Homo sapiens: one gene and its partner. The protein of the gene in region 2 purifies or fractionates together with the protein of the main gene of each other region. This does not show direct contact. Each region holds a gene or a part of one and is shown on either strand. Other genes may lie near its edges.

Evidence for each region.
Region 1: the proteins of TNFAIP8L1 (region 2) and PIP4K2B purify together in Homo sapiens (affinity purification with mass spectrometry, with the first as the bait; one large-scale study listed by BioGRID). This does not show direct contact.

The regions. Positions count from the first base shown.
Region 1 is NC_000017.11:38,779,009-38,782,817, forward strand, and holds part of PIP4K2B (phosphatidylinositol 5-phosphate 4-kinase type-2 beta), read right to left. Parts: intron 1,597-3,809; coding exon 1,444-1,596; exon of another isoform or gene 1,442-1,443; coding exon of another isoform or gene 1,439-1,441; intron 925-1,438; coding exon of another isoform or gene 844-924; intron 522-843; coding exon 375-521; intron 1-374. UniProt on the Homo sapiens protein: Participates in the biosynthesis of phosphatidylinositol 4,5-bisphosphate. Preferentially utilizes GTP, rather than ATP, for PI(5)P phosphorylation and its activity reflects changes in direct proportion to the physiological GTP concentration.
Region 2 is NC_000019.10:4,649,417-4,653,001, reverse strand, and holds part of TNFAIP8L1 (tumor necrosis factor alpha-induced protein 8-like protein 1), read right to left. Parts: intron 1,136-3,585; 5' UTR 1,133-1,135; coding exon 572-1,132; 3' UTR 1-571. UniProt on the Homo sapiens protein: Acts as a negative regulator of mTOR activity.

The DNA of each region.
Region 1 (3,809 bases), on a different chromosome or scaffold from region 2:
GCACCCTAGTTCACAGCCACAAGTGTGTCCTTCTCAGAGTCTAGAGATGCACTTGTGCTGGCAGTCCATGGGGGCCTGATGGATGCTAAAGTGCATGCGTCAGCACGGCCTCCCTCACTGTGCACATTCCACAGACAGGAACATCAACTGCTGCATAAATATGGCACATTTAGGGCTTAAATAATCTCCTGTTACTGTCACCTGGACTTCAAACTGCCTTTGGTCCACAAGAATCAGGCATATCCACTCCAGAGTTCCCTGTCCATGCCAACACATAGGCTCCAGCTTCCCAATTACATGGAAGTTGGAGTAGTGGCCCCTTCGGGGCTCAGATAGAGGGGAGGCACAGCTCCGGCAAACACAGAGCCCTTTACCTTGAGGTCATACTTGCGATGCACAGTGAGCCGATGGCTGAACACGTTCCTGGTAACCACCATGTAGGTTTCCACACCATCCACGGTCAGGCGGTACATGCCCAGGAACTGTGGCAAAAGCGTGTTGCCATGACACTCCACTATAAACTAGAATGGAAAGGAAGAAGAGAGAGGACTAAGGAACAGGCAGTGCCAGGGATGGATGGGGCTCACCCCAGACTAAAATGCTCCCTGGCTCCCTGGGATTCTAACCTCTAGACCAGTAGTTCTCCAGCTGGGTTCTATGAAGTAATAGGGGTTTCTCAGGCTTAAAATGGGCAACAGCCACCTCCAGCCTCCTGTTGGCATGGCAGAGGGAGAGGCAAGCTGAGCAGGTGGCTCAGAGCCCCTGTGGGTTCATATTATTAGTATCTCACCTAAGATTTTGTTTAAAGTAGGATTCTACCACAGGAAAATCCCTGATCCACACCTTGCATCTCTTCTGCCAGCCTGATATGGGAATGCCGCAGGGAAGAGACAGGATGCAGAGGCAGGCCAGGGATCCAGCCATCTGGGAGAAGAGAACAGCTCCATATCCAAAGCTCTTATCCATGCCATGCCCCAGGGTTTCTGCCATAACTCCTGAAAGACCAGAAGCTCCCTTCGGCCCTTCTCAGGTGCCCCAGAAATGAAGACCCAAGTAGGCTGAGGACAGACACACAGATGGTGCCACGGGGCTCCCTGCCTTCCTCATGGACAGGTTCCAGATGAGTGGAGAGATGGGACGGGAAAAGAAACAAGCCTGCCGAGCTGAGGGGGCCTCTTTCAGAAGAAACGGGGCGGATGCCAGTGCGTGAACACTTTCCAACTGGGAGTCAGTCAGCGATGAGCCTTCATGGCTCCTTTTTTCTTTTTTAAAGTAGGCATTTCAGCTCACAGAAATACGGTTGCAGGAGAGTCCCACTGCTTGGTGATCAGAAGCAGCTGCCATTACCAGAGAGGACCAACCCCTCCCTAAGAAGCTCCCCCAGGGCTCTCTTCTCCCTCTTCCAACCCATCCTCTGCAGCCCAGGCTTGGGACTCACCATACCTGGTGGTATTTCTTTAAGATGTTGTGCATCTCCGCCACGTCCTCGCTGGACACAGTCTTGATGACAAAGCGCCGGTCGTAGGTGGTGAGGAAACGCGTGCCACACCGACCCTGGCTGTCACTGTTGATGGGGGCGCTGCGCGTCACTGAATTCTGATAATCGAGACAAAAGAAGGCTGGGCTTGGCAGGGGAACAGAATTCTGACTTTCGCTGAGTCTTCCCTCAGGGGCTGGACTGCTTGAAAGCCAACAACACTGAGATAGAGGGACTCCCAGATGGGAGTTTACCCTCCCCTTTTCTCACAGGGTGTTCACATCCCTCCCTAAGTCTTCCTCCAAAGTGACAAGAATTGTTCCTTACCACCTGCTCTTCATCCCAGTCTAGGATGGGAAGAGGACTGACTGTGAAAGTTTCCATCCTGATCCCAGATAGCTATCCTACCAACTAAAATTCTGCCTCTGATGGAGGGGGCTGAGTCTAATCTGGACTCTCACACGCACTATGACCTTGGGTGAGCCATTTAACTTCTCTACCCCTGCATTTCCTCATCAGGAACACAAAGATGCAGACTGAGCTGATTCTCCCAGTCTCTTGGGGGTAGCAAAGATGAAGCTTAGAAAATACTGTCTTCAAGGGGTCTAGCACAAAGAAGCAATGCCCATTCGTCTCTTGTCCCTGGATCTACCCTAATGCTGAAAAACCTTCCCCAAAGCAGGAAGCTGATCCTCATCTCTGAGCCTGACACCTTTCCCCTTGCCTCAACCTCCTGCTTGTCTATGCAAGGCTGGGAGGCAGTTTTGGGGAGCTTTCCTGGCTGTATCCCTGCTCCTCCTCAAGGTCCTACTCCCATTAGGATCAGAGAGCAGTAGAAGCCTTAAGAGGGAGGGTGTGGGAAGGCGTGAGTCAACCAAAGGGATATGTTCACCAAGCAGATGCCAAGGGACCTCTGGGAAGCAACGGTGAGGGGAGATCCCAAGTGTCCCTGTTCCCAAGAAAACATACATGGGGATCATGTCACAGAAATGTCTCCTCTCCAAGATGTTTCCCCATCTCTTAATGAGGATCCTGTTATTATTTTTGTAGAGACAGGGTCTCACTCTGTCACCCAAGCTGGAGTACAGTGGTGAGATCTCAGCTCACTGCAGCCTCTACCTCCTGGGCTCAAGTGATCCTCCCGCCTCAGCCTACCAAGTAGCTGGGACTACAGGTGTGCACCAACATGCCCGGCTTATTTTTGTAGCTTTTGTAGAGATGTAGTTTCGCCATGTTTCCCAGGCTGGTCTAGAACTCCTGAGATCAAGCAATCCTCCTGCCTCAGCCTCCCAAAGTGCTAGGATTACAGGTGTGAGCTACTGTGCCCAGCCTTTTTTTTTTTTTTTAAAGATGGTGTTTTGCTGTCACCCAAACTGGAGTATAGTGGTGCGATCATAGCTCACTGCAGCCTTGAACTCCTGGGCTCAAGGGATCCTCTCGCCTCGGCCTCCTGAGCAGCTGGGACTATAGGCATGCACCACCATGCCCGGCTGATCAGGATCCTACTCTTTACTTTCCCCTAATACCTCCTCAGAAAACCCTGGTGGAGAAGTGAGGACCACCTTCATGGGGAAAACTAAAGTCAGAGGTGGTAAGCAGCTCTGGGAGTTCCTCAGCAAAGGTGCTAAAGTAGCACCCCAAAAAACAGGCTGTTCCCGTTACAGAAAGGTTGAGTAGACTCTGTGACTGAGCGCCTCTTCCTCCCAGCCTGGCCTCTCTACCATAAGACTTACAGGCTGCAAGCCTAGTTGGGAGGTAGAGGCAGCATCCCCTGACTCTCTAAGTGGCTGGTAGTCCAAGAATATAGGGTCCCCTCCCTGAGCACCATCCTCCCTGCCCTCATTTCAGTCTTGAGCACGGGCATGCGCCCACAAGGCTACTAGGGGCAAAATGCAGACACTGAGAGGATGTGGTTAGACAGCCCAGGGGAGGGAAAGGAACCCCTCACTTGCAACCCCTCACCAAGGAACAATGGAGGGAATCTGTCTGAGCAACTTGGGGTTGCAATAGTGGCAAGAAGTTTCCAGAAAACCTCCAGCCCCAGTCAAGTCATGATTGAGTTCAGGGTTCAATCCTAACAGCAGGCTGGAGGAACCTCCCAGTACCTCTTAGGTGTAGGCACTCCTGGGCATTCAAGCCCAAGGCATCTCCTCCTCCTCTCACAAACCCTCACCCTCTTCTTCGAGATACTTTTCTTTGCATGCAAGCCCTCCAGAGAGGAGGAGAGAGGGGAGGAGACTCTAACCCAAGGCCCCTTCTGCTGCTGTGAACTACTCTATCAAAGGGGTGGGGTGGGAGGAACTACAGTGTTAGAAAAGATTTGGGCATCCAT
Region 2 (3,585 bases):
CCCCAGTCCTTGAATTGGGGCCCACCCTACTCCAAGATGAGATCATCTGAACTAATTCCATCTGTAATGATCCTATTTCCAAATCAGATCATCTTCTGAGGTCCTGGGGGTTAGGACGTGAGTTTATGGAAGGGGGGGTGCCGCGACTTGCCCCCTAACACTTCCCTTCCCCCAGTTCACCGTGTGAACCCGTAGTCCTTGTGCGAGGGATGAAAATCCCAGGCGACATGATCCAAGTGGGAGGCAGCAGCTTTTGGCTTTTACATCAAGCGACCCAGGGGTCGGCGTGGCCCAGAAAGTACAAACGGGTGAAAGGTGGTCCCCAGAGTAGGGCCCCAAATTCCTCTCCCCATTGGGCGGGGGCCAGGAGGAGAGGTGACATTGGTGTTTGAAACAGCTGCTACAGATGCCTCAGCATCCTCTCAAAGGAGACAGGTCACCCATCTGTCTAGGGGAGTTTGGCCGGAGTCCGATTGGGAGAAAAGAGGTGGAAAAAAACCCACAAACCCCACCCGCGCCCAGCAGGAGAGCCCCAAAAGGCGCGAGGGGCGCGGTTGGGCGGCGCCGGGGTTCAGAGGCTGCCCTCGTCCAGCATCCGGCCCAGGCCCTCGCAGATCCTGCGCAGGTGGGAGCGGTAGGGCTCGGCGGGGCCGTAGAGCGCAGCCAGGAAGTCGCAGTCGGCTAGGTGGCCGAACACGTGGTTGATGCGGCCGTGGGACTTGGCGGTCAGGTGGGGACCCACGGCCTGGTGCAGCAGGTCGCGGCACTCGAGCAGCCCGGCGGCCAGCACGCGCCGGTCGAAGGTGAAGTCCACCTGGTGGAAGCTGACGGCCGTCATGGCCAGGCAGCGCGCCCGGTGGCGGAAGCGCCGCAGCAGCGCCAGCTCCTCACCGCCCAGCTGGTCCCCACGCAGCAGCAGTCCCAGCTTCAGGGCCACCTTGACCAGGTTCTTGAGCATCTTCTGGGCCTCCTTGCGGCTGCGCGTGAACTCCCTGGTGGCGCGGTACAGCTCATCCAGCACCTCACTGCTGGTGTCATCCACCAGCACGGCCACCACTGCCTTGGACGCCATCTTACTCAGGAGCTTCTTCTGCGCCTGCAGAGCCAGGCTCTTGGTGCTGAAGGTGTCCATGGCCTGCGGGGGACACAGACCAGCCCTCAGTTTTGCACGTTGGGGCACTCCTCACACAGAAGAGGTGACAACACCACAGACCCCAGAGGGCCTAACGGAATTTGTTTCTTTAAAAAGTGTCATGCCGGACGCAGTGGCTCACGCCTGTAATCCCAGCAATTTGGGATGCCTAGGCAGGCGGATCGCCTGAGATCGAGGTTAGGAGTGCGAGACCAGCCTGGCAAACATGGTGAAACCCATGTTTCTCTCTACTAAAAATACAAAAATTAGCCAGGCTTGGTGATGGGTGCCCGCAATCCCCGCTACTTGGGAGGCTGAGGCAGGAGAATCCCTTGAGCCCGGGAGGCGGAGGTTGCAGTGAGCTAAGACCATGCCACCGCACTGCAGCCTATAATTCAAGCCTGTGGTTCATGCCTGTGGTCCCAGTGCTCTGGGAGGCTGAGGCAGGAGAATTGCGAGGCCAGGAGTTTGAGACCAGCCTGGGCAACATAACAAGACCCTATCTCTAAAAAAAAAAAATCAAAAATTTTATTTTGTATTTATTATTATGATTATTATTATAAACAAACAGAGAAGGCCCTTCTGAACCCCACTATCTGTAGGGTCTGATGCCAGCCCTCAAACCCATCATATCCTTGCTATGAGCTGAGAAGGGGCTCAAGGTGATTGTTACAGGGGGTTCCGTTCCATCCCCTAGGTCCAGCTCAACACTCCCCACCCTCACCCCACAGCTCCATGAGGTGGGGTTCCAAGTGAGCCCCAGACCCGGGGCTGTTCAGGGTGGAGGAGCCCCATTACTATGGCAGTGCCTCCAGTCCCACTGCCCCCGCAGGGTTGGTTTATTTATTATTTATTTATTTTATTATTATTATTATTACTATTTTTTGAGATGGAATCTCCCTCTGTCGCCCAGGCTGGAGTGTGGTGGCACGATCTCGGCTCACTGCAAGCTCCGCCTCCTGGGCTCACGCCATTCTCCTGCCTCAGCCTCCGGAGTAGCTGGGACTACAGGCGCCCGCCACCACACCTGGCCCCCGACAGGGTTTATAACAGGCATGTCCAAGGCCTTCAGCCCCGAGTGAGCCAGGGGGTGATGGGTTCACAGGGGGCCATTTGTGGGGTTTCTGGGAAGGCATGGCTCCGATGATTCCTCCAACAGGGAAACATTGACTTGGACAGCCCCCGTCCAGGCTGGGACTGGGGAGGTGGCCAAGGTGAGAGCCTGGCCAGCTCTCGAGGCATAAGGGCCAGGCCTCTCACTGCAGAACCATCCCCCTGTCCCTGTCTGCTCCTTTTCTCTGTCCACCCTGCCCTGTAGCCTGCCCAGTTTCCCCAGCCCTGGAGCTTCCCCCTCCACCCACCTCCTTCCTGCAGCTCCGGAATTCTTCCTAAATCTCAGAGTAGGGCATAGCCCTTACCTGCTGAGAACAAGCTGACAGCTCCTCAAAGCTCCCAGGACCAAGCTCCACACCTCACTTGGAGCCCTGACTCTTCCCTGTGGACCTCAATACCCTAAGGCCCCATCTCCTCCCTGGTGAACTCCTATACACCCCCCAAAGCCTGGCCCCCAAGCCCCTGCCTCTTCCCTGGTAAACTATACATCCCCATCACTTTGGCCCCCAAGTCTCTGCCTCCTCTGAGCCGCAGGTTCCCCAGGCATCCCCATTGCTCCTCTGCTCCCCAGCTCTGCACCCCAACTGGTCTGCCTCACCCCAGGCCACAGGGGAGGTCATGGGCCCAATTCCTTATCCACGGTGTCCCTGCAGACTCCAGAAACATCTGCTGAATGAAGAGGGGAGTGTGGAAGAACTGGCGGAGGAGGGAGGGCCTGAGACCCGCCCCCGGTCTCTCTCACTGCCCCAGACCCTGCTCAGCCTCCACTCCCACCCCAGCGCCAGGCTGCCAGCCTTGGAATGCCATGTGGGCACCCACCTACCCCAGGAGCCCCCACAAAGCCGGTCTTTGTGTGAGTTCAGACTCCGGGAGAAGTTCCAAACCCTCGGCCGCCCTCTGAGGTCAGGGCAGGCACGGGAATTGCTGGATGGGCCGCCCCTGCCCTCCGACCTCGGTCACCAGACCCTGGCTCTGCACAGGCCTAGGCCAGAAGAGGGGTGCTGTTGACTCAGTGCCACGTGGCAGACCCTGAGTCAGCGATGTGTGCCCACTTTGTCATCGCCACCATGTACTAGGCAGGTTGCCTGTTTTGCAGAAGAGACCACAAAGGCTCAGAGAGGCTGAGCCACTTCCCCAAGACCACACAGCAATACAGTAACCACTGGCTCTCAACGCCCTTGAACCCCAACTCCCTGTGCCTTCCCCACCTAACGCCCTCAACTGGCCGTGAGTCTTAGAGGGCAACCCTGATATTTAGGGCCTGCTCCCAGCTCTGGCCTCTGCAGCAAGCAACTTAACAATGTGCCTCAGTTTCCCCATCTGAAATATGGGGAAGATCG